Linked DNA regions of Homo sapiens. The protein of the gene in region 5 purifies or fractionates together with the protein of the main gene of each other region. This does not show direct contact. Each region holds a gene or a part of one and is shown on either strand. Other genes may lie near its edges.

What was found.
Region 1: the proteins of ARMC5 (region 5) and NCAPG2 purify together in Homo sapiens (affinity purification with mass spectrometry; one large-scale study listed by BioGRID and IntAct). This does not show direct contact.
Region 2: the proteins of ARMC5 (region 5) and IQGAP3 purify together in Homo sapiens (affinity purification with mass spectrometry; one large-scale study listed by BioGRID and IntAct). This does not show direct contact.
Region 3: the proteins of ARMC5 (region 5) and NSUN2 purify together in Homo sapiens (affinity purification with mass spectrometry, with the first as the bait; one study listed by BioGRID). This does not show direct contact.
Region 4: the proteins of ARMC5 (region 5) and FERMT2 purify together in Homo sapiens (affinity purification with mass spectrometry, with the first as the bait; one study listed by BioGRID). This does not show direct contact.
Region 6: the proteins of ARMC5 (region 5) and PGM3 purify together in Homo sapiens (affinity purification with mass spectrometry, with the first as the bait; one study listed by BioGRID). This does not show direct contact.
Region 7: the proteins of ARMC5 (region 5) and CA1 purify together in Homo sapiens (affinity purification with mass spectrometry, with the first as the bait; one study listed by BioGRID). This does not show direct contact.

The regions. Positions count from the first base shown.
Region 1 is NC_000007.14:158,694,325-158,698,940, forward strand, and holds part of NCAPG2 (condensin-2 complex subunit G2), read right to left. Parts: intron 1-4,616. UniProt on the Homo sapiens protein: Regulatory subunit of the condensin-2 complex, a complex which establishes mitotic chromosome architecture and is involved in physical rigidity of the chromatid axis.
Region 2 is NC_000001.11:156,569,766-156,573,893, forward strand, and holds the start of IQGAP3 (ras GTPase-activating-like protein IQGAP3), read right to left. Parts: upstream 2,801-4,128; 5' UTR 2,765-2,800; coding exon 2,728-2,764; coding exon of another isoform or gene 2,713-2,727; intron 1-2,712.
Region 3 is NC_000005.10:6,598,204-6,602,625, reverse strand, and holds the end of NSUN2 (RNA cytosine C(5)-methyltransferase NSUN2), read left to right. Parts: intron 1-125; coding exon 126-165; intron 166-2,393; coding exon 2,394-2,700; 3' UTR 2,701-3,387; downstream 3,388-4,422. UniProt on the Homo sapiens protein: RNA cytosine C(5)-methyltransferase that methylates cytosine to 5-methylcytosine (m5C) in various RNAs, such as tRNAs, mRNAs and some long non-coding RNAs (lncRNAs).
Region 4 is NC_000014.9:52,859,974-52,864,589, reverse strand, and holds part of FERMT2 (fermitin family homolog 2), read left to right. Parts: coding exon 1-189; intron 190-2,979; coding exon of another isoform or gene 2,980-3,003; intron 3,004-3,555; coding exon of another isoform or gene 3,556-3,576; intron 3,577-4,124; coding exon 4,125-4,249; intron 4,250-4,616. UniProt on the Homo sapiens protein: Scaffolding protein that enhances integrin activation mediated by TLN1 and/or TLN2, but activates integrins only weakly by itself. Binds to membranes enriched in phosphoinositides.
Region 5 is NC_000016.10:31,464,540-31,468,238, reverse strand, and holds the end of ARMC5 (armadillo repeat-containing protein 5), read right to left. Parts: coding exon 3,352-3,699; coding exon of another isoform or gene 3,038-3,351; exon of another isoform or gene 2,390-3,037; coding exon 2,257-2,389; exon of another isoform or gene 2,179-2,256; coding exon of another isoform or gene 2,161-2,178; coding exon 1,350-2,160; 3' UTR 1,074-1,349; downstream 1-1,073.
Region 6 is NC_000006.12:83,166,820-83,169,265, forward strand, and holds part of PGM3 (phosphoacetylglucosamine mutase), read right to left. Parts: coding exon 2,415-2,446; 3' UTR 1,349-2,414; coding exon of another isoform or gene 1,043-1,348; 3' UTR 1-1,042. Other genes in the region: protein DOP1A, read left to right, coding at 1,043-1,348. UniProt on the Homo sapiens protein: Catalyzes the conversion of GlcNAc-6-P into GlcNAc-1-P during the synthesis of uridine diphosphate/UDP-GlcNAc, a sugar nucleotide critical to multiple glycosylation pathways including protein N- and O-glycosylation.
Region 7 is NC_000008.11:85,367,573-85,372,188, forward strand, and holds part of CA1 (carbonic anhydrase 1), read right to left. Parts: exon of another isoform or gene 4,569-4,616; intron 1-4,568. UniProt on the Homo sapiens protein: Catalyzes the reversible hydration of carbon dioxide. Can hydrate cyanamide to urea.

The DNA.
Region 1 (4,616 bases), on a different chromosome or scaffold from region 5:
AGAAAATCACTGTTTTATAGCCATCACAATAATTATGGACTCTGGCAGGAATTATCGGGAGATGCTGAAACAAGTGGGTGGAAGCCTGGTGAGCAGCAGGACATTACAGTGTCACCACTTTCCCACAGAGGCAGGTTCCCAGAAGAGACCTGGCGGACACCTACCCACACAGGGACGGACAGACCATGCCATGCGCTTCCTGTCTTGACAGCGCCGAGGACCTAACACTGCTAAGCAGTTCCTGCCAAAATGCACACTAAAATTTAATCAGATCCTCAACAGATGCAAATTGAAGGCTATACCACAAAAGAGCCACTTGCACTCTTCAAAACTGTCGGGGTCATAAAAAACACAGTAAGATGGAGGAACTAGAGTAAAGATAACCTCATAAGCCCTCCATCCCCCCATCCTCTCTTCCTGCTCTCCTAGCTCCTCTCCTGCCCTGGTGTTTGTTTTCTCCTCTTCTTAGCGCTCCTTCATTTTTCATCTAGCTTTTTCCACCTCCGCTTGTTCACTTCTATCTACTCTCTTTCCTCGTTTCCTTGACCCTCCTCCCCTTCAATTCTCCTCTCCATTTTCCTTAAGCCTTTGCCTGTCAATCACATGCAAACACAGACCAGCTCTCAAATGTTTGACCTTAGACAGTATCTTGATCTACCTATAGACCCGACATTCAATCATGAACAATTGAATAATTCTTTACGCCTCAATTATGCAGAAAAAATAAGTTAATGGCCCGCTTAAGTCCATTAATGGTAATTTTCCAGTATATCAATGGACAGTTTTGGTGCTGGGGTCATTCATCTGGGTGATGGACCACAGCTACTGTGTTCAAAGATCAAGAGGTTCTATTCAGGGCAAACTCTGGTGACTGAAGGTGACCAGAGAAATGACTGGGCTGATTCATGACGCTTACATCAGGAAATACTAGTTGACTGATGGTTAGGGCACAGAAACGAATCAGGACCCACCCTGCCCTGAGTAAGTTCACAGTCTAGGGGCAAGAATAACAACCTACAGATTGTTAAAATCTATTAGAGGTGTATGCTGAAGGATATAGCCTGAAGGAAAAGAAATAGCTGCCCATCCACCTATGTGACAAACTAGGATGGGCTGCTAACTCCTTCCTGAAAAATCAACCCTGAAGAAATGAGAGTGAGAGAGGTTCCAGTAACAAACTATAGCAACAAAATGAGACACACACCCAGCTTCACTGAAGGCTGTTTGGAGCTGGGGATGTGAGAAATGAGTGGCTGTTGCCTAGGGCACTGAAGAGCTGGCTGGAAGGGCAAGGAAAGGATGGGGGACAAAAGCTGTTCAAATATCAAAATGTTCTACCTCTCCCCAGCATGGCCTTGGGGTGGTCATTGCCTGGCATTGCCACGACATTAGCAGTGACGGCCCAGGCCTCTAGGGCCATAGGACACTGGGCAAAGGCAGGGCAACACAAAAGCCCAGCAGTTAGAAAGAACACGTGCAGACTAGCGAGCTGCCTGTGGGCATCCTTCCACAACCACCTCCAGCCCCCGGATGCAGAAGCTGTGCAGCCCTGTGCTGTACAGAGCGCACCAGGATGAGGGGCCGGTGGGGTGGACATCCTGCAGGGCCTCTCCTCCCTGTGTGAGTGCCCTGGCCACCTGTGCCCCAGCAAGGTGCCTTTTTGTAGTCTATATGCCCAGAGGGAGGTATCCTCTTGTGACTGGCACAATGTGTATGAAGCAGGGGAAGTCTTGTTGCGTAGCAAAAAACTTGGTAGCATAAAGCAACAATTTTACTGTATCTCATGAATCAGATGCTCACTCTTGGGGACACATGCCTGTGCTTAAGGTGGCAGCTGGGTGTTGGATGTCTGGCACTTTGGTGCCCACTAATGAGGTCTCCCTCTGCAGTCTCATCCTCCAGCCTTTGTGTGTGGTCTCTCTCTCCAGCAGAGGGTGATCCTGCACTTCTTACATGACAACCACGGGCTCCGAGAGGAAGTAGAAGCTGCCAAACTTTCTGAAGGCCACTTCCTCAATATTCCGTCCGTCAAAGCAGGCACAAGCCCAATCCAGATTCAAGAGGAGAGGACATAGGCTGCAGAGGGTTATTTAACAGGATTATCCACAATGTTAAATTTCCTGATTTTGAGGATTTTAATGTGATTATATAACAGAATATCTTTTAGAAAAATACGAACTGAAATGTTTAGAGATAAAGAGGCACAATGCCTACAACTGACTCAAGTGATTCAAAAAAATGTAAATACAAAGGATGATAAAGAAAATGTGGCAAGTGGTAAAAACTGGCAAACCTGGACGTAGGGTATTCAGGATTCCTTTGAATTCCTCTTGCAACTTTTCTTTTAACTTAGCAGTTATTTCAACAGGAAAGAAATTACTTCTCCACCCTAACCCTGCCACCCTCCTCCTCCTAAGTCCACACCCTTAGCTTCCCAAATGTGCCCTGCCTCAGGGGCTCGGCCTTTCCCATTCCTTTTGTCTAGAATCTTCTTTTCCCAAATCTCTGCATGGCCCATTTGGATCTCTGATCAAATATAGTCAGGCAATGCATAGTGATATTTCAGTCAATGACAAACCACATATATGAGAGTGGTCCCATAAGATTATAATGGAGCTGAAAAATTCCTATCACCTAGTGATGTCATGGCTGTCAAAACATCATAGTGTAACAGATTAATCACATTTGTGGTAATGTTGGTGTAAACAAACCTACTTTTTATCATTGTTTTAGAGTATATTCCTTCTACATTTTTTTAAGTTAATTGTAAACTAGCCTTAGGCAGGTGCTTCAAGAGAAATTCCTGAAGGCAATGTTATCATAGGAGATGAGATGACAGCTGCATGTCTGTTATTGCCCCTGAAGACCTTCCACTGGGACAAGATGTTAAGGTGGAAGACAGTGATACTGATGATCCTGACTTGGTACAGGCCCAGGCTTATGGTATATTTGTGTCTTAGTTTTTAACAAAAAAGTTTAAAAAGTAAAAATAGATGGCTGGGCATGGTGGCTCACACCTGTAATCCCAGCACTTTGGGAGGCCAAGGCAGGTGGATCACCTGAGATCAGGAGTTTGAGACCAGCCTGGCCAACATGGCGAAACCCTGTCTCTACTAAAAATACAGAAATTAGCCGGTGTGGTGGCGTGTGCCTGTAATCTCAACTATTCAGGAGGCTGAGGCAGGAGAATCACTTGAACCCGGGAGGCGGAGGTTGCAGTGAGCCAAGACGACGCCACTGCACTCCAGCCTGAGCAACAGAGCAAGGCTCCAACTGAAAAGAAAAAAAAAAAAAAGTAAAAATAGAAAAAAGCTATCAAATAGGGGTATAAAGAGAGTATTTTTAGCAAAGACATGGAATAAACCTAAATGCCCATCAATGATAGACTGGATAAAGAAAATGTGGTACATATACACCATGGAATACTATACAGCCATAAAAAAAGAATGAGATCAAGTCCTTTGCGGGGACATAGATGGAGCTGGAGGCCATTATCCATAGCAAACTAACACAGGAACAGAAAACCAAATACAGCATGTTCTCACTTATAAGTAGGAGCTAAATTATGAGAACACATGGACACGGGGGAACAACACACACTGGCCTATTGGAGGGTAGAGGGTGGGAGGAGGGAGAGGATCAGGAAAAATAACTAATATAACTAAATAACTAAAAATAACTAATTACTAGGCTTAATACCTCAGTGATGAAATAATCTGTACAATAAACCCCCATGAGACAAGTTGACCTATGTAACAAACCTGTACATGTAACCCTGAATATAAAAGTTAAAATAAAATAAAATGAAGAAAGATTTTTTGTAAAGCAAAATAAGTTTGTGTTTTAAGCTAAGTGTTATTATAAAGGATTTTAAAAGTTTATCAAGTAAAACAGTTACAGTAAGCTAAGGTTAATTTATTATTGAAGAAAAATGTTTTTATAAATTTACTGTAGCCCAAGTGTAATGTGTTTATAGTTTACAGTAGTGTACAATGACGTATTAGGCCTTCACATTTACTCACTACTCAGTTATTCACCCAGAACAACTTCCAGTTGTGCCAGCTCCAGCTACACTAAGTGCCCTATTCAGATGTACCATTTTTTATGTTTTATACTGTATTTTTACTGTACCTTTTCAATGTTTAGACACACACCATTGTGTTACAACACTGTGCCTACAGTATTCAGTACAGTAACATGCCACACAGGTTTGTAGCCTAGGACGGTAGACTGTACCATCTAGCCCAGGTGTGTACTGAGCTGCTCCATCTGGGTGTATGTAAGCACACTTTAGGATGTTCACACAACAATGAAATGACCTAATGATGCATTTCTCAGAACCTATCCTCATCAAGAGTCATGTGACTGTACCAACTCTGTTCAAATATCATCTCTGAGGTTTTCTTTAGCCACTCCATCGTTCCCAACTTCCACTTCCACTTGCTTTATCAGTAGTAGTAGTATTTTTTTTTTTTTTTTGAGACAGGGTCTCACTTTGTCACCCAGGCTGGAGTGCAGTTGCACAATCATAGCTCACTGTAGCCTCAAACTCCTGGGCTCAAGTAATTCTACTGCCTCAGCCTCCCAAGTAGTTGGGACCACAGGCACAAGCCACT
Region 2 (4,128 bases), on a different chromosome or scaffold from region 5:
GCCTTGGCCTCCCAAAGTGCTGGCATTACAGGCTTGAGCCGCCACCATGCCCAGCCGAAACATCTTCTCAACAGACTTGTTTAGGCAACCCTGCTCAGAGACCTGAAACATCTCCCATGTGTCCCTCCTTCTCTTCCCAGGATACCCTTTAATAGGCAGCCTCCTCCTGTGCTGGAGGCATTACTTCTCTTTCCTCTGTAGCCATCTTCCTGTCCTCTTCCTCCTCAAGTCTACTCATGGAACTTCCCTCAGTACCTCCCAGCTGGGACATCCAGAGCCTTCCTTGGCTTGAAACTTAACTCCTTTTCTTATCCCTAATTAGACTGAGTTCTCCAAGAACTGGACCTGTGTCATCCTCGTTGGTTACTCTCTCAGAGGTGAGGTAATAGAACCAACCAGAATTCATCATTCACTCATTCATTCATTCATCAATACCTCCTTTATGCCAGGCACTGGACTAGCAGACCCCTACTCTTAAGAAATGCAGAGATAAAGGCCTGCATGGTGGCTCATGCCTATAATCCCAGTACTTCTGGATGCTGAGGTAGGTGGATCGCTTGAGCCCAGAAGTTTGAGACCAGCCTGGGCAACATGGTGAGACCCTGTCTTGACAAAAAATACACAAATTAGCCTGGTGTGATGGTGCAAACCTGTACTCCCAGCTACTGGGCCTAGACCTGAGCCCAGGAGGTCTAGGCTGCGGTTAGCCATGATCGTGCCACTGCACTCCATCCTGGACAACAGAGATATTGGTGGGTTTGTTTTGTTTTTGAAACAGGGTGTCACTCTGTCACCCAGGCTGGAGTGCAGTAGTGCAGCCTTGACCTCCTGGGCTCAGGTGATCTTCCCACCTCAGCCCCCCCACCACCAAATAGCTGGGACCACAGGTGCGCACCACCATGTCTGGCTAATTCTTGCGTTTTTTGTTGAGACTGGTTCTCACCATGTTGCCCAGGCTGGTCTTGGACTCCTGGGCTCAAGTGATCCTCCCGCCTTGGCCTCCCAAAGTGCTGGGATTACAGGCGTGAACCACAGCGCCCAAAGATTATTATCAGAAGAGAAAAACATCTGAATAAATTAATCTAACATGATAAGTATGATTATAGCCCATGCATAAAATCTATGGGAGCAGCAGAGGAAGCAAAGGATTCTAGCTATGAACTAGATCTTAAGGAATAAATAGGCGGAACACAGGGAAAGGCAGTCCAACAGAGGGAAACATGCCACTCACTTGGGATTAAGTGGAAGGACAAAGAAAATTTTAAAAGATCACAAAGGTATCTTCACTATCCTTTTTGGTATAGGTCACCCGAGGAGGAAAAGAATCTTCAAGCTAAATAAAATACAGAGTACTGATTCCAAAACTCAAGAATAGAGAATCCCTCAAGTGAGACAGCAATCATAATTTGCCTTAGTTACAGTCTCCCTTAATCCTTCTCCCTTCTCTCCCCTCTCTCTATTCTCCTTAGAAACACAATACAAAATCAAACAGAAAGAGTAAGAGAAAGCTACACACACAGTAAGAAAATAAACTCAGAGAGCTTGAAAAAAGGCAGAGCTTAGCCAATCTGTCTTTGACTCAGCACTTAATGTCATTCCCGGTTGTTATCCTATTTCCTTATATTGCATATTCTGCAATGATTCAGGGAAGGGCAGAGCTTATATGAATGAGCAGTTAAGTAAATTAAAACACATGCGTGCACACACACACACACCCCTCCAAATACAGATTTGAAAACACTGGCCAACCACAGGAAAGCCATCAGTTCCTCCAAGGGGGTGTACAAGGAACAAGTGTTGGTTGTTAAGCATGGAAAATAAACCAGTAAGTGAATGACATCATCTCAGAGTTATGAACTGAGGACTGTGGGCGATGGGAGGGATTTTGTACATACACATGCTGTCTCAAAAAAATAAAAAACCGAAAAACAGTTTTCCTGTCCTTCTCAGGTCTGGAACTAGTTTTCCTTTAACAGAAGACTGGACATGGACTTTGCTCTTTGAATCCTAATAGAAAGGAAGGGAGTGGTGGAAGGAGCAGGTTTTCCTTTCATTCAGAAAATCAGATAGAACCTTTCTGCCCCACCCATCCTTCCAGCTCCAGTCTCTCTCTCTAAAACAGTGTCTTTGAAAATGTGGCCCAGGGACTACCTTCCTCACAATCACCTGGGGTGAGGGAAGAAGCACAGCAGTGCTTGTTATAAATGCAGATTATGGGCCCCAAACCAGACCTTCTGGAACTGAAGCTCTGGGACAGGTCCCAGGAATCTGCATCTCAAACAAGCTTCCCGGGTAATTTCACCCCCTGTTTGACAGGCATTGTCTGAAAGCGGCATCTCAAAGCCTAAGAGTCCCCCAGATCCCTTGAGGCGTCTTGTCCGGTGGCATCGCTGGGCAAGTTTGGTAGCCAGCAGTAACTGCTGAATTTCAAGGAGCCATTAGGATCACCTACATTCTCCCGACTCCGGAACCCCAGAACTTGGAAATAGGAAGAAAGTTCTTTGTAAGCTTTAAAGCGCAGCACATTAGTCAGGGGACAATGCGCCGCTCACAGTTCCACTCGGGCCCACGGCGCCCGGGCTGAGGATTCCCGTCCCACTGAGCAGTCCCACCGCCCTCGCCCCTCAGGCTTCACGCCCGACACACGCCCCAATCTCTCCCGGGACAGCCAAGCCCCCGACCAGCGGCACCACTGCGAGACCCTTCTCTGACCCTCTCCGCACTCACAGGCTGCCCAGCCTGGGCCCGCTGCTCTCCTCTCCATGTTCCTCCTTCTTCCAGGTTTGAATCTCCCGCCGTTGGGCCACCGCCCCTCACCGTCGGCACCGCCAGACAGGACACTTCCCGTCCACACCGCTGAGAATCCTGGGATTTGTAGTTCCCGGCCGCGGAGCCGGGCCGCCCAGGTGCTGGGAGAAGAGGCGCCCCAGGCCGGGGCAGTACCGCTCCCCTTACAGCAGTTCCTCGTCTTGTTCCTTCCAGGCTCCTTTTCTGCTTAACAGTCTTATTCTAGCTGCTGCCCCTGCCATTGCCTCTGTCATCTCCACCTAGTATTCCCATTAACCCCTACTCTGCTTCCTATGTGTTCCCGAGTCCGGCTAACTTGTGGGCCTACTTGGCGCTATGCACTAAGCTAGGTGATGCGAATGCAGAGATGTATGAGGGCAGTGAATGCTCTAAAAGAGTTTGCTGTTCTGGCACAAGTGATAGACATATAGTCAAATAAATTAGAGGTCGGTGATGCACAGAGGGAGGGGGTCATTGCTGTGAATAAGAGCAGCGAATGACAGGGAAGACGTCCTGGTGGAAGTGACAGCTGATTTGGGTTGAGAAGTGAAAGAGAATTCATCAGATTGAAGAAGAGAGGCAGTGCAGTCAGTGGAGACAGCATGTGCAAGAACGAGGAGGTGAGTTCGGGAACTTAAACTTGGTTCAGTTTTAGAGGAGAACAAAGCTCAGCCAGGGAGAGGCCAGAAGGGATCCTGGAGGCACAGGGCCAGGTCCAGTAGCACCTTGGGCACCATGCTAGGGCCCTGGCATGGGGTCTGGTGAGCAGTCACCAGCCAAGGAACACTTTAGACATAGGTCAGAGCCAGATTTGTCCTTTAAAAAGAGCCATCTTATAGCAGGGGATTGGAAGGGGGTGAGGCTAGGGGCAGAGACCAGTTGGAAGGCTACTGCAGTAGCACAGAAGAGAGATAATAAGAGCCTGAACTAGGCCAGGCACGGTGGTTCACACCTGTAATCCCAGCACTTTGGGAGGCGGAGGCGGGCAGATTAACTGAGGTCAGGAGTTCAAGACCAGACAGGCCAACATGGTGAAACCCCATCTCTAGTAAAAATACAAATATTAGCCAGGCGTGGTGGGGTATGCCTGTAATCCCAGGTACTCCGGAGGCTGAGGCAGGAGAATCGCTTGAACCCAGGAGGCAGAGGTTGCAGTGAGCTGAGACTGTGCCACTGCACTCCAGCCTGGGCGACAGAGTGAGACGCCGTCTCAAAAAAAAAAAAAAAAAAAAAAAAAAGAGCCTGAACTAATAAAAAATAATTATGACACCAACAACTATGCTGAAAAAATATTATCTGATAGGTTTCCCCATCTTGTATTTCTCCTTTTACCCTTTCCCC
Region 3 (4,422 bases), on a different chromosome or scaffold from region 5:
AATGTAGATTATTTGTTGTTTTCTTTCTTCAGAATACTTAACACATCACTAGGTGCAGAAATGTGCTCAGCGCATGCATCCACTACCTGGAAAACCTGGCAAATGTGTGTCTGTTTCTTTTCCAGCAAAGGGAAGCATCGTGCTGAAGTATGAACCAGATTCTGCGTAAGTCAGTACACGCCCTGCCCTTAGACACACACGCCTTGTCATTAGCTACAGTGTTCTCGTTGGTGAGGAAAGTGACTTGGGAAGGTGGGAACCTTCTTCAGGCCTTTTGTGATTGTTCCTCAGAAGTAGCCTTGTGAAAACTTCAGAACCAAAATATTCCTGTAGGTCATCATGAAGATGCTGTTTCATAGAACACTCAGCTCAGGCTAAGTGAATTTTTACTTACAGAGAATAAAATGCATAGTACTTATTTTTTAAGCATTAGAAACCAATGAAAATTTCTGTCTTGTACAGAGTAAGTGTGAAGATTGGACAGTTGAGTGAGGTTCCGTTCTTTTGTCCTCATGGCTGGTTCAGCCATGTGTGTTGCTGACATGTTACTGCATCAGGAGTGCTAGGGCCGGAGCATGGGATTTGCTCACGCTTGCACTCACGGTCCCCACGGGACCACTGCTCCACGCTGCTTGCATGTATTCACGCTGCATCCTTGTGGGGGGCCTTGGGGGAGCAGGTGCTGGTTTTGGCAGCACTTGCCAGAGGAGGAAGCCGGGACAGAAAGTTAGGTGGCTTGCCCAGAGCTCCTCAGCTCACGAGTGGCAGAATTCGGATCTCACCTGCAACAGCTCCGTCTTGGTGACATGCAACACCATTTCTGAGAGGAGGAAACAGAATGGGGTCCACGGCTGACTGGGATTTGGGGGAGTGAATAGGTAGAACCACTGTACAGATTTCTTTGGGAAGTTAGTGTTGGACCAGGGATCCAGTGCTAACTTGAAGGAACCACCAAAGCGCAGATCCTGAGGCAGGTGCAAGCTGGGGGTCGGGGCGGGCCCAGCCAAGTAGGGAAGGAGGAGGGATAGGTAAGAGGTTGGCAGGGAGGCCGAGGGGCCACATGTCCTCAGGGTTCAGGCTGTCCGGCTGCCATGTGGAGAGAGGACAGGTGGGGGCTGAGGTGGGAGGGGCAGGAACTTGGTGAGGGAACAACAGATGGATGGGCTGGAGAGGTCAGCGAGGCCGAGCGCATGAGCACCCTGGGGACCTGCTGGAGGCGGATGGTGTCTGGATGGTGAACGGGCAGGAGCATCTAGTGATTGATGGCTTCTGGGTGTTTTTAACGAGAGTTTGAACAAAGACTCAGAAATGGTTTTTAAAATAACAGTCCCATGTGGCCCACATAGAAAATATTGGGATATTTTAAGGTGTGGATTCACTTTTCCATATTTAAACACTTGTTTCTACTTGGTGAAATACACAGGTGACAGGTCAACTTCAGGAATAATGGTTTTTTTTTTTTAAGAAGATGGGAGTTGGGAATTTCTTATATTTTCCTCTCACTTCTTAAAACCACCTTTGTGCCCCTGCTTTACATTAGGAAAAATGGAAAGGTGATTAAACACGGCCGTTAGGAGCCTAAAATCTAGGTCAGAGTCCCGTATGAAAGAAATCAGATAAGTTGAGAGAGGGCGTGTGCAGGTTGGAAATGGTGGCGTCCATCTCTGCTGGGGCGTCGATGCCTCCTGGCTGGACAGGTGGAGCCTGGAAGGTAGGGAGGCTCGGAGCATGTTCAGAGAGGCAGGGATGTTTTTGACTGTGGGTAACACTGCATGCTGGGAACGGAAATGAGCACTGTGTGCCCAGCAGGGCTCAGACTGCCATGTGGGGTCCCTGGAGAAGAAATCACGCTAACACTGAGTATCAAAAGGATGAGTGGTCCTGGGTTCTGCTCTGGCAGCCCTGCTAAGGGCAGAGTCTCCCGGTGGTCCTGGGTCCTGCTCTGACGCCCTGCTAAGGGCAGAGTCTCCCAGCCTCTCAGGAGCTTCAGTCCACTTAGGAAACTTGAGGTGAGCTGCAGGGAGCCTGTGGAGAAACGCTTCTCATTTAGTGGGGTGAGGTGACACGGGGTGGCGGGGACAGTAAGTTAAGTTTGAGAAGGAAGTATGTAGAAAGTGTATGTGAAATCTGTAGATTTGGGGCCTCTACTCCATTGTGAACTTAAAGAGGCAGGGCGAAAGCGAGGGTGAGAATTTTACTCAGGACATGAAGAAGGAAGTCCTTTGAGAAAACCTACCCCTCGGATCCAGATGAAATGTCCTCCCAGTAGTTTTGGGGGTTTTGTGGGTATGGGTTTTCTGTGGTTTTCTTTTTTAAGCAGTTGCATATTACATCTCATTCGATTTAGTTATGGGAATGTTTAATGTTCTACATGAAGCCACTTTCACTTGTAGGAATCCAGACGCTCTGCAGTGTCCCATCGTCTTATGCGGATGGCGGGGAAAGGCCTCCATTCGAACTTTTGTGCCCAAGAATGAACGGCTTCATTATCTCAGGATGATGGGGCTGGAGGTATTGGGAGAAAAGAAGAAGGAAGGGGTTATCCTCACAAATGAGAGTGCAGCCAGCACCGGACAGCCAGACAATGACGTGACTGAGGGACAGAGAGCAGGAGAGCCCAACAGCCCAGATGCAGAAGAGGCCAACAGTCCAGACGTGACAGCAGGCTGTGACCCGGCGGGGGTCCATCCACCCCGGTGAGCAGGCCCAAGGCAGCGGGGGCCCACACCCCTCACACGCAAAACTGGCTTCTTCTGGTCACTGGTGTCTGAAACCAAATCCAGAGCAGCCTGTGGCCTGTAAAGCATATATTTCTAATGACTGCAGACTGGTGGGATCATAGGAGCCTTCTGAATGACCAGGACTGCTTTCTTTGGAGCTGATGAAAATGTACTCTTTTAGCGTGTTAGAAATCACTTGTTTTATTTTGTTTCTTTGGCCAAGCTGGGTCTAGTGTTTCTTTTGCTGGGAATAGACTTTCAAAAGTTGTACTTCTATCAAGAAACAAAACTGCCCTTGCAGAAATTTCAGGTCTTTTGTTAAGCCTGTATTGGTCTTAAGGTGCAGTATTTTTTAAATTATTATTTATAGAAAGAATCTATAAATTCTTGGGGAAGTGTGTTATAAGCTTTAATAATTACATTGAGCTGCACCTCAGTGGTGTGTCATTAACATGCAGTGGGGTTAATATCTGAGGCCTCAGATGACTTTGTGCCTTTTGGAATAAAGGGTAAAATAAACTCTCCCAGAGTAAGAGCTGTATCGTGAATTGTCATACTAATTATTGAGGGGGACTTATGTGCTTTTATTGAATGGAGTGCTTTACAATTTTTATTTTTAAATGGGGTTGGGATCCTTGGAATATTTCAATAAAATTGATAAAATATATACATGTGTGATTCCTGTTTTTGCTCTTAGGAAGCAGAAAGAACAAACTTACTTTTGGCTAAATGGCAGTGTTAGAATACATCCTTATTTTCTCTAGTGAAAGCGGTTTTACTGTGAAGGCTGCTGTCTTCCTGTCTACCTCATTTTGTGTGTTGGTCTGTACAAACACCGACCACACACTGCCTTTGGTGGATTTGTCTCTGGAGTCTCCACTGTGGAATACTTTCAAGCTCTGTGGCGTGAAGAGCTCCTATTTCTCTTTCGCCCACATTCTCCACTGAACATTTCTCTACATTTGCATTTGCATCCTCTGGTGTGCTTGCATGTCACTCATTGTTTTCTGAACCCTTTGACAGTAAGTTACAGACGTGTTCCGTTACCCCCTTGCTCCTGTGGTGTTTCCTGGAAACAGAGGCCCTCTTTACAGCTCGCAGCATAGGCGTCAGAAACGTGGATGCAGGTCACCCTCAAACCAGCAAGCTCGCTCCAGCGGCCCAGTAATGTCCTTTGCAGTCACAATGTCCAATTTTGTCTGGGGTGACACCAGTTGCCTTTGGCTGTCTTGTCTCGAGTTCACTACCGTCAGAAACAGTTCCCAGTCTGTCTTTTATGATTGAGACAGTCTTGCAGGGTACCGGTCAGGTAGTCTGAATGTGCTTCAGTTTTGGTTGGTCTGAAGTGTCCCTGTGATGTGTGCGTTTTTGACAGGAGGACCACAGAGGTGGTGCTGTGTTCTCGCTGCGTCATGCCAGGAGGCTGACGATGTTGGGTTTTCTCTTTATAGTGGTGGTGAAGTTTGTTTTATTATTAGTAACATGGTATCTGTCTGCCAAGTTTCTCCACTGAAAAATTTGTAAGTATTGTGCAAGGAGACATTTCAAGACTATATTCCTCTCTCTCATCAAACTTTTAACTGCCAGCTTTAGTATTTCTTGATAATTTGCCTGAGCCAGTTTTTACTGTGACAGCTACAAATTGTTTTCCCCCATTTTTCATCACTTCTACATTATTAGTTCTCATTACATAGAATAAGCA
Region 4 (4,616 bases), on a different chromosome or scaffold from region 5:
AGATTAGCCTCCAAAGGCAAGACCATGGCGGACAGTTCTTACAACTTAGAAGTTCAGAATATTCTTTCCTTTCTGAAGATGCAGCATTTAAACCCAGATCCTCAGTTAATACCAGAGCAGATCACGACTGATATAACTCCTGAATGTTTGGTGTCTCCCCGCTATCTAAAAAAGTATAAGAACAAGCAGGTACTTACTTCATTTTACTTCATCTACTGTGCTGGTTTGTTTTTATAATTTTGTACATAACTTTGTTTTTCCCCTCTTAAACAAAACTTTTTAGTCTTAATTTTGTATCAGATGGTTAGAATATAAAATACAGTTAGAGTATCCCTAATCTGAACCTCTGAAATCCTCCAAAATCTGAAACTTTTTGAGTGCCAACATGACTCTCAAATGCTCATTGGCACATTTTGGATTTCAGATTTGGGATCCTCAACTGGTAAGTATAATGCAGATATTCCAAAATCCAAAAAAATCTGAAACCCAAAATACTTCTGGTCCCAAGAATTTTGGATAATGGATACTCAATCTGTAGAAAATAAAGTAACCTTTAGTCAGTTTAAATTGGTCATTAAAAAAAAAAATCTTTATCATTTTAATAGAACAGATAAGGACACAGAATAGTTGAGAACTTACTCTAAACAAATTGCAGAAATCATTCTGTTAACATGGTGTTCTTTCAGACATTTTAGGGAATTGAATATGGTCTCAATGCTTTGTGTTCCTTAATTTATTTAATTTTATTCCATATATAATTAAGTAAATGTGACATAAAGTGCAGCCAGCATTTCTCAACAAAATCTGTAATACCTGCTCTTGTTGAAATTGGCTTTTCCAGCTTTAGAAAGAAACTTTACAAGAGTACATTTTTAGCCGTGTCTTTTCTTAACATTTTCAGTCAGAACCTAACCACAATTTTACACATAGTTACACAGTTTGGTAAATTTTCATTGAAATTTGCTTTTGTTCACTCTGTTTAGAATTCTTTTCTTTGGAAATTAATACCATAAAAGGGCTGCTACTTAGGAAAATGGTTCTTTGGTACAACATAAAAAGTCCTTTACAGGGGAATTTCACTTGGTATAGGCCCTGGTATTCTCTGCCCCCAACATCATGCCATAAAAGGAAAAGGCTTTAGTTTGGGGGTGGGGAGACGAAGACCTTTAAAATAAACATTTTGTTTTTATCTAATTTTGCTTTAATCTTTGTTAAGGAATAATTTTAAAACATACTAAAAAGGCTCAATGAAATGCCCAGAACACTTACTAATTCCTTAACTTTAAGTATAATATTTATTATATGGGTCTAAAATTATTTCTACCTAAATGTTCAGAATTTTAATGACAGAATATTTGTCTTTAAGTCTCAGAGGTTGTGTAAGCCTAGAAATTGTTTATCCCGTGGTCATATGATGTGGGAGTAGTAAGGAATGGAGGAAATGCTGCCCTGGGGAACTGTATGGAATGTAGATTGTAAGTTAAAAAGAGAAAGTAAAGCAAGTGCTAATTTCATTTTTCATTCGTAGTTTTTTAAAATTATTTATACAGAATCTTGTTTCTAAAAGTGAACTTATTTGCCTTCAAAGGCAATAAGTAATTTCAAACCTGACCAATTTTATCATTTCACAGTAAGGTATCAGGGAGATAAAAGAGCTTAAACGAGAGCTGCCACACATTGTTTTCACTGTCAACTATTTGTTTTCTCAGAAGCCTTTTAAATGATAGTTCTTGACTAGAAACTATCAACTGAAGATTTATCTTTAACTGACAGGAGGACAGTTTGTGTGTGGTCCGTGGTTAAAGATCCTTCTGGCCTTGCCTTTCATGTTGCCATCTAATCAAATGCACATTTTTAACCCTCCTTTCTCTCACTAGAGCTATAGGTTAGATTTTTTGGTGTGTATTTTGTTCTCTTTGAGGCAGAGTCTCTCTGTCTCCCAGGCTGGAGTGCAGTGGCACCATCATAGCTCAAGCGCACTGCAGCCTCCATCTCCCAGGCTCAAGCAATCCTCCCACCTCAGCCTCCCTAGTAACTAGAACCACAGGCACGCACTGCCACTCCAGGCTAATTTTTGTATTTTTTGTAGAGATGGGGTCTCGCTATGTTGCTTAGACTGGTCTCAAACTCTTGAGCTCAAGTGATCTGCCTGCCTTGGCCTCCCGAAGCACTGGGATTACAGGTGTGAGCCACCACACTCTGCTGGAATAGACTTACAAATTGTTGGCCAGGCACAGTGGCTCACGCCTGTAATCCCAGCACTTTGAGAGGCCGAGGCGGGTGGATCACTTGAGGTCAGGAGTTTGAGACCAGCCTGGCCAACATGGTGAAACCCCATCTCTACTAAAAATACAAAAATTAGCCAGGCATGGTGGTGCACGCCTATAATGCCAGCTACTTGGGAGGCTGAGGCAGGAGAATCACCTGTACCCGGGAGGTGGAGGTTGCAGTGAGCCAAGATGGCGCCATTGCACTCCAGCCTGGGTGACAAGAGTGAAATTCTGTCTCAGAAAAAAAAATTGTTTCCAGAGAATAGCGACCATGATGTTATTGCCCTGGTGCCTAGTAAGTAGTGACATTCAGAAGTTTAGTTGCTACTGTGTGTCAGATACCACACTAGTCACACTGGACATAGTGCTCAGTAATTATTAAGCTGTATCCAGTTGCGTTCTGGAGGCTGTAGGAAGATGTGCAGGCCACAAGGACATTCTTCCCTACCTGGGCATAGACTCGTAGTTTTCTTTTGGGTCTATCAAAATAACCTGTTGTATTTAACCTACTTTAATTCCCTTCAATTATATATATATTAACTAAACATGCTGTGGGTATTTTTAAATAAATATGACTCTCAAACTGGATTTTTAAATTTTGAAGAATTATTCTATATGTTGATTTATGTTAATCTAAATGGAAATGACTAATGCCATAAAGCCGAAATTCCTCATGTAGTATACGGCATCTCTTTGTTTTCCCTTCCAGGAAAAAGGATGCAAAAAACACATGGTAACTGAGGGGTTTGCTTTTCTTGTGTAAAAAAAGAAACAGATGGGCACTGCACTTATTTTATGCCTTCAAATTCTTATTTCTGAAAAGCAGTGCATGGATCATATTATCTGACTAAATCTGAGAAGACTTTAAAGGCTTTTGGATACTTTTATTTTGCTACTAAAATAATTGGCTTTACCTTAACCGGTGAGAACTGGGTACACGATGTAACTGGGTACACGATGTAGGGGGAAAGAAATATTTGCTCTTTTTATCTTCTCCCTACAAATTTCTACCCTTAGGTTCTTTAGCAACATTTAACATTCTAAAATAATGTGGAGTGTTTCTCAGTGTTCTAAATGGAAAGTAATTGCTGCTTCCTCATTTTCATTTTTCATTCTTGCATTTACTTTGCTTGGTTTCTACCTAAAGTAGTTTTTTGCATGACTTTTGGCTGGAATTTTGGTTTGCAGGTGACCGCAACTTTTTCTTTGCTTCGTTGCCATTTTTTCTGATTGCCTTTTTTTTTCTTTCTGCTTCCTTTTTCTTTCCTCGCATTGCCATCTACAGCCAGGCTATATAAGAGATTTGGTAAGTTCTCCATATTTACCACAAAAGAAAAAGAATAAATAAAAATTCATAGCCACAACCTTCCCTCATGGAATTTACCCCAGTAGTGAAATTTAAATTTAAAATAGAAATGATTATGGTGATTTCAAGTACCTTAAAGCTGCTAACAAATATTCCTGCTAGAAACATGTATTCCAGGTATTCATTCTGATTATAGACATAGTGCTAAATTTAATTAAAACTCGTGTATATGTGGATTAGAATGTGCTGTTCTGTAATAGTAGTACCGTTAGGTGTATGCATTTGGAATATGTCTCAAGTGTGGCAACTATGTACTCCTAATAGTACTTTTTGTTGATATATGAAAACTGAAATTAAGACTTATTTTGAAAAATCCTTATACATTACATTATTACAGTGTCCAAATGTAGCTTCAGATATTTTGATTTCAACTCTTACAATATGATTTTGGGGTACGGGGTGCGTAATTCAATCTTTTGATCTTTTGTCTCAGTTCTCCCATGAGAGAATAATGTTCAATGGTAAAGGTGATGTTTACTCATGTTTAGATAACAGCGAGAATCTTGGAGGCCCATCAGAATGTAGCTCAGATGAGTCTAATTGAAGCCAAGATGAGATTTATTCAAGCTTGGCAGTCACTACCTGAATTTGGCATCACTCACTTCATTGCAAGGTCAGTGGTTCTAAGCATCTATGTGTAAACCTTAATCTGCATTTTTGCTTAATCTACCTCATGTAATTAGATATTAAACATCTAAAGCATACCTATGTAGACCCATTAACTCATATTACAATAGAATTCAAAGACTGTTAGAATGTATTTTGTAAGCTTTTAATTTCTACATTAAAAATTCAAGATAATTGTGTTTGTTTTACTACTAAGAGAATAGCACTCTTGGCCAGGCACGGTGGCTCACGCCTGTAATCGCAGCACTGTGGGAGGCCGAGGTGGGTGGATCACGAGGTCAGGAGATAGAGACCATCCTGGCTAACACGGTGAAACCCTGTCTCTACTAAAAATACAAAAAATTAGTGGGGCA
Region 5 (3,699 bases):
ATGTTGGCTGGCACAGTGGCTCGTGCCTATAAATCCCAGCATTTTAGGAGTCTGAGGCAGGAGAACTGCTTGAACTTAGGATTTTGAGACCAGCCTGGGCAACATAGCAAGACCCTGTCTCTTAAAAAAAAAAAAGGAAAATGTGGTACATATACACCATGGAATAGTACACAGCCTTAAAAAATGAAATAACGTCCTTTGCAGGAACATGAATGGAGCTGGAGGCCATTATCCTAAGTAAACTAACTCAGACACAGAAAACCAAATACTGCATGTTCTCCGTTATAAGTGGGAACTAAGCAATGGGTACACAGGGGCATGAAGATAGAAACAGACACTGGGGACTCCAAAAGGGGGGCGGGTAGGTGCGGGGCAAAGGCTGGAAAATTGCCTAGTGGGTATAGTGTTCACTCTTTGGGTAATGGGTTCACTAGAAACCCAATCCTCCCCAGTACACAATACACCCGTGTAACAAACATGCACGTGCCCCCTGAATCTAAAGCAAAATAATAGTCAAAAAAAAAAAAAAAAAAAAAGATCTGGAAGCCAGATGATGGAGACCCTGCCTTGGAGACCAAAGCAATGTGAGCCCTTCCCTCCCCTCAACGCCAGCACAGGTCTTTGTCTGTCTCTGGGCATGACTAAGACAGGGCTCAGAGATTCCCTCCACAGCAGGTCTTCCCTCAGACAGACAGCAGTAGGACACGTGGCCCAGGAGATGAAAAGGGAGCCAAAGAATGGGGGCCCAAGATGGGCAACAGTCAGTAATGCAAAGGCCTTCAACACATCATCAGACTAACAGCATTCCCTCAGCACAACCCTTTCAGCCCCAAGCAAGATCTGTGTGTCCAGTTGGGTTGCTATGTCAGAGGAGTGAGGCCCTGACAGCAGGAAGCAGGCTTCCCCTGAGGCCCAAAACCACATCCTAAGCAGCAGCCTGGGAACTCAACCTTGTCCCAGTACTTATTAAACTGTCACATGCAAGGGTGGTCTGTGTCCAGACACAAAGACCTGAACAAGACCCTGCTTGGTGGGCGAAGAAACAGAAGCAGACACACCACACAACACAGGTATCCAACTCCAAATTGTTTAATCTCAATTCCAGAGGTCTAGGCCAGGCCAGGCACCTGGGGCTCTGGGCTGTTCTGCTTCTCTGGGCCCTACACCCAGAACCTGGCCTTGGCTTCTCGCTCCCGGGTCTTTAGATCGTCATCTTGGAGTCCGGTTCCATGTTCTCACCGCTCCTCCATGATGACTCCTTCTGCTCAGCCTCCTCCCTTGCCAGTCTCAGGGAGGATCCTTCACAGCCAATTCATCCTTGGGTCCCCTTCCCAGGGGACGTCAACAGTCTAGGCAGGGACCCTTGCCCCCAACTCAATCCCCATCACCACAGCCAGCAAAGCCTCCGTCAGGGGCCCTGCCTCTTCACCTGCTGCCTCCACAAGCCCCACCAGGGCCAGACCCCGCTTCCTCGGGCACTGCTCTGACCCCAGTGTCCAGCGGGCACAGTGGGCAGCCAGCCGGGGCCGGCCCAGGCGGAACACCTCACCCACTGACTCCGGGCCACCCTGGGGTCCCAGGTGGATGCGGCCCACGGCCTCTTCCAGCTCCTCCTCCAGCCCAGGCAGTAGGAAACGGCCAGCAGCCTCCAGTGCCTCCTCGGCCTCTGAACCCAGCAGGGGCTGGCCTGGTGGGGGCACGGGCCCCAGGGCAGCCCCACACCCCCGACAACCATGCAAATGATGCAGGACAGGCCAGGCTGCACCAGGCGACAGACCTCGCAGGGGCACCAGGTCCATCTGGGCTTCTGCAAAGCTGCCTGACAGCAGGGCCCGGAAGAAAGGGGAGGCGGTGGCTGAGGCCGCTCGCTGGGCAGGGAGCTGGAGGCCTGAGTCCAGCAGGAAGTGCAGGTCGGGAGCTGGGACAGGGGCTGGGCCCAGCAGAGGTTCATAGAGGCAAGGGGAAGGTGAGTCTAGGTCCATGGGGACTGCCTGTGGGACAGCTGGGCTCACAGTGGGAGACACCAGGTCTTGGAGGCAGGAAAGGGAGTCCGCGGCAAAGAAGAGGAAGAGCGGGTGTGGGGCCGGCCGGGTCAGCGCCGCAAGGAGGAGCCGGAGACCACCCTGCTCCAGAAGCAGCCGGCGCCACAGAGAGGGCTTCCTACAGGGAAGAGAGGGCCTTTCAAAAGGTGGGCAACGGGCCTGGGAAACACAGCACTCCTCCCCCAACCCCGCAAGGCACCCACTTCCCACTCACCGGCAGATGAAGGGCAGGGTCAGCGCGCAGGCCACTCGGTCCTCAGGGCTCCCAGAGAGCAGCAGGTGCGTCAGGGCCCCAACCCCAAAGGGCGACTCAGCCTGAACCGTCAGGTTCTGCAGTAGCCTCTCCCCTGTGAGTGGAAAGCTTGTCAGGCTGGGAACTGGGGTCTAAGACAGGTGGGGTGAGTGAGACAGGGCTCTGGGCCCGTGAGATGAAGGAGGGTGAAACCTCTGGGTGAGAAATCAGGGCACTGAAGAGACAGTGCTGGGCTCGGGACGCTGGGAACCTGAGGTCCAGGACAAGGACAGAAGGTGGGACAGTCAGGGTGTAAGTCTGGGCCCCTGAAGTGTGGGCGGCAAGCCACCCAGGCGCCGAGGCAAGAGACGGAGGACACGAGCTGTTCCAGTATAATACAATATAAAACAAGAATAGTTATACCAGATATAGATCTTAGAGATATATGAATATCATTAATCATTAGTTTGTAGTAATTACTCTTTATCCCAATATTGTAATAATCCTCGCTCTATAATCATAACCTGGGAAAAACCAGGCCATACAGAGATAGGAGCTGAGGGGACATAGTGAGGTGTGACCAGAAGACAAGAGTGCGAGCCTTCTGTTATGCCCGGACAGGGCCAGCAGAAGGGCTCCTTGGTCTAGCAGTAACGCCATGAAGCAGCCTGTGGTCAGGGCACAGCAGACAGGGCAGTCCCTGGCAGTGCTGGGGGTGATGGTGAGGCTGGGGTTCACAGGTCAGCGTGCTGGTGGGGAGCAGTCAGGACAGTGCTGAACCAATGGCAGAGCCAGGAAAGAAGCACAGACCAGCCCAGATCCTGGGCGCGGGGCTGCATCTAGAGTTAGGGTATCTGGGTCCCAGGGCTAGGGCAGAGGACACAGCAGAACTCTGCCTGTGGGCCCATGGAGGGACTGGAACGCCCTGCTCCCCACCCCACTCTGGTGACAGGTTGTCTGGAGGACGGGCTGGGGAGGACAGGTGAGTGGGAAGGTGAGGTTCTGGGCCCATGGAAGCCATGGGGGAGGATGGGGACTCACATGGGGGCAAGGAGACGGGTGGGTATGGGAACTCACCCAGCTCTCGGTGCCGGCTGTGGAGAGTGGGCCGGGCACGTGGTGCCGGCCAATCGTCAGGCGCCACCCCCAGCACCAGCCAGGCCCGCAGCAGCGCCGCGCCATAGCTGCGCACGAAGGCCTCGAGGCAGGCAGGGTTGCAGGTGAGGCGTGACAGAATGCGCAGTGCACGTGGGCTGGGCGGGCCCGGTGCGCCGGTCACATAGGTCAGCAGGCCGTACAGCGCCGGGCCGGTCACAAGTGCCCCACTTGGGTCAGGGGCCTGGGAAAAGCGCGACAGCAGCAGCAGGGCTGGCCCTTCGCGTCCCCAAGGCTCCTCGATGGCGGCGGCGGGGCTGCGGCCCGGAG
Region 6 (2,446 bases), on a different chromosome or scaffold from region 5:
AGTTTCTGAGCAACATCTGATCTTAGAAGGCAAACTCCATTTGTTAATATGACAGATTGTAATTCTGCTTCCTAAGTCTTCATGATTTCTTCCTTCTGTCTAGTTCATTGCTTATTTTCATTCTTTAGTGTGGAATTGTATCTGTGATTCTGCCCAAGTTCAACCAACCTGTTCTCTCTTATCTTTCTCTAGACAGAATGATGTCTGTAGCTGTGTTTGTGTAATTCAGGTGGCTTCTCAAACTAGCCTCTTAATACCCAAATTATTAGTCTTTATATTTAGTTGACAGAGTTTTCACATACCTTCTCATTTGACTTCTCTACTAAAAGGTAGTTTTAGACTGTCCCATTTTATAAGTGAGGAACCTTTGTATATCCTGCCCAAGGGTGCCGTAAGTATGGCAGAGCCAGCACACTAACTCAATTCCTTTGACTCCAGGTCCAGCTTTCCTCCCTATGTTGTTTAGCACAACCCAGAAGGAGACAGCAGTGTCTCCTGAGGGATCCCTTCCTTTCTCTGTGATGCAGTACTGACAGTAATTATTCACTTTGGACACTGCTACCATCATGGCAAATTTAGGCCATTTAGATAAAAGGGAATTAACTAATTATAATAAAAGGGGATATATTATGAAATGTATAAAGCACTTTGTTCCTTTTTTCTGTAGTAATTTTGTGACCTAGTCCTTGGTTACAGTAGTGAGGGTTCAGAAACCTGGGAGCTTTTTGAGTAAATACAAAGCACAACATAAAACTTTTATGTTTGACTCTATTCCTGTTCAAAGCTATTTCTGTTAACTAAGCTTATCTGCGCATTCTAGTTGGGAACTATTACTACAATGTTAGACTGCTCCATGTAAAACTAATAAATGGCAGTAAAAGGTCTCAGAAGCACCAAGGGTTTTGATCAGGTCAGGAGTTAGAAACTTAATGTCATTTGTATTCATTTCTTGACCAATTGCCAAAGTTTATATATTTTTAATTTTTCTAACATACCACATTGTCTGTTGTATTAATACCAGTTCACTTTTTGTTTTCTGCAGAAAAATCCAGAGGAAGACAACTCAGGGAGAACATTGGGTTGGGAGCCAGGGCACTTGCTGCTCACCATCTGCACCGTGCGCAGTATGGAGCAGCTCCTGCCGTTCTTCAATGTGCTCAGTCAAGTCTTCAACAGCAAAGTCACAAGCCGATGTGGAGGACACTCAGGGAGTCCTATCCTCTACTCAAATGCCTTCCCTAATAAGGACATGAAACTGGAGAACCACAAACCATGTTCCAGCAAAGCCAGGCAAAAAATAGAAGAGATGGTAGAAAAAGATTTTCTGGAAGGGATGATAAAAACTTGAGCACCATTGCTGGTTCCATTTAGCTTACATGTAAATGTAATTATTTAAAACACACACACTGCTCTGCGTTGTATAGTTTTTCCTTTTTTGTATGTAACAGAACACATTTCAGATTGTATTTAATTTAAATATTTGTATATAAGAGCAAATGTCTGAATGTGGCCTGAATCAAGTTTAAATATTGTTGGCTCATACTGATTATGGTGCCTAAGAGAGCTATATATATACACATGTAAAGTCCATTGTTTTTATTGTCCTGAGTTGTCTTAAACCTGCAAAATATACACTACCCATTTTTTTTTTCCATTGGTTTCAGACTTGGTTCAATTAAGATTGGTTGGGGATTTTTCTCTTTTCCTTATTAACCATGTTCTGGTATCAGAATGGTGTTCCTTCTCCATCAGAGGCTGGGAAACGTATTATAATTAGTTTTTCTCCCACATACCTTCACCAAGAGCAGTGAAGAATAACTGAAGGCTGGACCATGCATCCTTAAAAGTATTGCATGAGCATCTCCACCTCAGTATGGAAGAGGGATGGACAACCCCCTATTCATACCTCTGAGTTCCTGATGGCATTAGTCATATAGGTAAGTCATCTAATAATCTTTCTTAAGACTCTGCAATGGAAAAACTGGTTGTATAAAGTCTTCTCTGCCCTCTCCATTTGTATCAGCAATGGGGAATGCTGCAAAACATCATCTTGCTCATGTGATGGTGATGGCAAAGATATCACAAGGAGTTGGTAATAAGATTTAATTTTCCAGTAGCCTGCATGAATTGTTCCCCACATAAAACTGTACAGTTAGTGACTGAATTGTATACTTAAGTCCCAGTATTTTACATTAGTGAGACTGAAATTAGAGGTAAATTTCTTTAACAAGTGTAAGGCTTACCTATTTATAAAGAATTATTCTGTTAGTGTTTAAGAAAAACAGATCTAGAGACAATCCAGTAGGCTGCATTGTAAACATTATGATTATAAATCTCTTAGTACTGCCATTATTATTGACAGTTTTGTAAAGACTTGTAAAAAGTCCAGTTTCTCAGGAATATGAAAATTATCTTCAGAAACCTGGTTGGGGCCTTTCTCCAATTC
Region 7 (4,616 bases), on a different chromosome or scaffold from region 5:
AGAGGGCTTTGTTAAAATACAGATTGCCCAGCCTCACCTTCAGAGTTTCTGATTCAGTAGGTCTGGGATGGAAGCTGAGAATTTGCATTTCTAGCAAGTCCCAGGTGATGCTGATACTGCTGCTCTGAGGACCACACTTAGAGAGCCACTGCTTTAGAAATATTCCTTGTATACCCTTTGTCAGAAATAGCTAAGGTTTCCAGAAGCAAGAATAGGAATAAAGGCAAGATGTACACAAGTGATATCTGATACTGGGGTTGAGATTATGTATTATATACAATTTTTTGAAAAGTAAGACTACGACTAAGCTATTACATTACATGTGCTGCGGTAGTATTTTGTATGTTGTATAAAACAAAAGCATTAAATAAATTGAAAGTATTAAAGAATAATAGAAAATTATTTATATGTATTAAATCTCACTTATTTTCTTTTCATTGCTTATAAAAGAATATGAGCTGTACAATTTTCCAGCTACTTATACATATTAGACAATAAATAAAAACAAAATATTGAAAGAAGAGAGGACAGAATGTTTATGAATCGCTTGTAATTTTAAAATTAAAAAATTAAATTAAATTTAAAATAGTAATAATAATAATTATTATTATTTTGAGGCAGAGTCTCACTCTGTTGCCAGGCTGGAGTGCAGTGGCGCAATCTTGGCTCACCACAAACTCTGTCTCCCAGGTTCAAGTGATTCTCTTGCCTCAGTCTCCTGAGTAGATGGGACTAGAGGAGTGTGCCACCATGCCCGGGTAATTTTTTTGTATTTTTAGTAGAGATGAGGTTTCACCATGTTGGCTAGGCTGGTCTTGAACTCCTGACCTCATGATCTGCCCTTCTCTGCCTCCCAAAGTGCTGAGATTACAGGTGTGAGCCACCACACCTGGCCAAATTTAAAATTTAAAAATTCTACCTGTGTTTAGTTGTGGTACATGTTGCTTTAACAATATGGAGGTGTTTTTTTTTTCACATTTTCTTTGTGTGAAACAAACATAATATCTTTTTAATGATTGTTTCATTGTGACTGAAGTAGCTGAAATGCACAGTGTGCTCTTTTGAGTTTCCCTATAATTGTTCAAGATTGATTTTTCATTGTTCTTAAAATTAAACTTTTTTTTGGAGAAAGAGAAACAGGTAAAAAAAAGAGAGAAAACTTTAGATAACTGTAACTTTATACTATCTTGGGGGCAATGCTTCATTTCTAAGGGAGTTCAAGCACTGTGCATCAGAGCCAGGAGGTTCCAGACTTGTCACTGTCACGTCAATCTTGTAACTTTCCAACAGGTCCTCCTTCCCAGAAACCAAATCAGATTTTCTACTTGAAGCAGTACCAAGCCTCTGGATAGAGCTTCGAGGGAAGGATTTTGGGGTCATGGGTTTTTTCCAGGGAGGCTCGAAAAAAGCTTCCCTTGCAGTTTGAGTTTGAAGGCTGTAGCTCAGTGGCAGATCAGGACACCTAGGAACATTTCCAAGGAAGTAGCCATTTCTCTCCCAGCCTTGAACCCTGATCTCTGGGTTCTTCCCTCTGAGAATCTCCCCCACCTCAGTTAAACTGCGCATCATAACTGCATGGCTATTTGAGATATTATTTTTAAATAACATGTTTACTTTGTGAAAGCTCTTAGTTAGGGAAACCAGAGGTCAGCATTGCAGTTTGTTTACAGATCTGTGAAATGGCTTTGCCCTGCTACCCCCTTATTTATATCAGATTTCATCTTTCATGCTACCCTCTCTTTTCCAAATTCAGTTTCCTAATGCTCTTGGTTACCCCACTTTGGAGATTACCCCGGCTTGCCTAGGATGCATCTCTCCAACTTTCAATGCCTAACCTTGGCTAGTTAACCATCTTGAAACACATTCATATCAAAGCATTAATGACAGAAAATAGCTTAATGTGGTAACTTCTAGTCACATCTTTGCTTTACATAGTGATTTGAAACTCCAAAGATCTTAAGTAAAGACATGCATTTTGAACAATGAAATGCCGTGGACTGGTAGGGCCAACAAGAAGGAGATGTTTAGCCAGAGCAGCTTCCCGTGGTCCTTTGCATCATAATAGCTAGTCCATCTTTGGTTGATGCAAAAGTTGTACTTAAGAGAAAGCATGGGAACAGGGTTCTCTTTTAAAAGCATACTCCAAATAGCTACCTTAAGGGGAAATGAATGGGAACCCTGGCACTATGGTGGGTTAATCTTGATGTTCTCCACTCATCCCTTACGCCTGTTACCCATGTTAGTCTGTTTCTTACTAATTGGAAATTACTTTTACTTATGATTAAGAAACTGTTATAGTCCTGGACTTGTATGTAGAGGATAGGATTACAGTTCAACAAGTAGCCAAGTAATATATGACCAACTAAGATCCCTGGAATTTGGCTACCTAGGGTTTAATGTGTCTAGCAAACTATTTCCTCTGTAGTGAGAAATAACATGACACCAAACCTTTCAGAATCAGGCCAGGAACTGAAATGGGGGGGAAGTTGAACCAGCTGTCTTTGAAGCTGAACCCCGTCATTAAGGGCTAGATGGCACAGCCATAGAATAGGTTAGGACTGTTCTAGAGAACTAGTGTTTGTTGTATATTAATACCTGTAATTTATAAGCCCATAAAGATTTATGCTTCTTGTATTTTATATGTTTATTTGTACTGTTTTTCCTTCACTTTGACAGTCTCAGCCTATCTCAGATTGGCAGGAAATCAATTGAAGTAAACTTTGTTCAGACTTCATTCAAACCTCTGGGGATACAAATGGTAGTGACTGGTTATCATGGGAAGAGTGAAATTCAGAGGAAATTGAATCAAAACCCTCTAAACTTAGGCATTTTTTAATAGTACTAAAACCTTGGAGTTTTTTAAAAAAAACTTTTAAAATCTTCTGGCTTTGTTCTATTTTATTTTTATTTTTTAGAAAGAGATATGGGAACTTTATGATCACCTTGGATGATTTTATTGTAGTTAGAGATTAAAACATTCTAGCTCATTTCTGTAAATATGGAACTCAGTAACCATGTCTCAGTAGAGATGCTTTTTATTTACAGAGAGTAAATAGAAAGTAATTTCAATTTTCTAAAAATGACAAGTGCTGTCAAAATGTATGACAACCTGTAGTATAAGTATGTACAGATACACTACTTTAAATTTATGTCTTAGATTTTCTTTTCTCGCTAATATTTATTTTTATTGACTTTTCTCAGAAATTATTTTAATCAGTCCTGTATTAAAAGATGCACAATTTCAAATTTCTTCTTATCAGATTAAGACACAAAATAGGTTAAAATATAATTTGCCATTATTGTGTTTAAATGGATCTTAGAAGTGTTAAATTTACATTTGCATACTATTCTGGATACTTCTAGGAATTTTAAATTTGATGTCATAATTCTTCTATCACCTTTGGTTGTCTGCATTTAACATATGACACAGTGTGATATCTGAATGCCTCTCTGAATAGCTCCCAGCTATAGTGACTACTGCCATCTTTAGGATGGATCCACAGATTCTGGATCTAACTTATGTGCAGTTAGAGGGAGTTTAAAGGAGATTTAAATTACCCTGCCAACTCCAATGACTCTTCATCCTTGGAGTTTGGTTAGCTGATTCTGTGCCTTGGTCCTAGTAACTGGGGGTTCTAGCTCCCCTAAAGATCTGAACTCATACCACAAATTGTTTCAAGATCTGTTTCTTTTCCTAAAGGTAAGCCTCTGGCTTGATAATGATTCTGGCGCCCTAGGCTTTCTAGGTCTGTTAATCTTAATTCTTTTGGTCATGCATTCCTTTGAAATTATGATAAAAGTTAGGTTTGTTTCCTTTGAAAGTGCACATATTCTCAGGTGTGTGTGCGTATACACACATACAATTTTGAATACAGTTTCTGGGCTTTCATGAATCCTAAGGCAACCCCCAAAGAACGGGGTCTCTGAATATTGCAGGCTTTAATGCCATGTGTAGTACACCCAAGCAGAAATCAGCCCAGCTGGGGCAGCATCCTTGCCCTTTGGTGCACCAGAATCTTGTCAGCAGTAGTCAGGTAGGGTCCACCCAATACAAATATTTGTCTAAAGCAATACCTGGAGAGGTAATATGATTTACAACTTAATGAGAAAAATAAAATAATTTGCTGAGCGTGAGTGAAGCTACTTTAGAGAATGAGAACAGTAAAGATTTTACTGTGTTGATAAAGACTGGATTGCACTCAGTGAATTACAGAGCAGCAAGGTTCTGATATTTACTTTCAGTTCCTCTTCACTGAGGAACTTTTGAACTTCTACATGCATTGTGGCTAAAAGAATTGTGGCCTGTCTTCTATGGATGATTTTAAGCTCAACCATCAAACATCCATTAAACACCAAGTATATGTCAGGTCCTATGCTGGGTGTTGAGGACAGAAGATGAGTGAGGAGCTCATAATGTTGTACAGGAGAAAGACATATAAGTAAATAATAATGAAAGGGATTGCCACTTTTTAAGTGCAGACTACGTGCTAATGGTTTCACATATATTATTTCACCAAATCTTTAAAACAATCCTAGAGTCATGTTTATTTTTATCCTCATTTTACAAGCGAGGAAACAAAATCATGGACGATGGACCATATGCCATGGTAGAACTA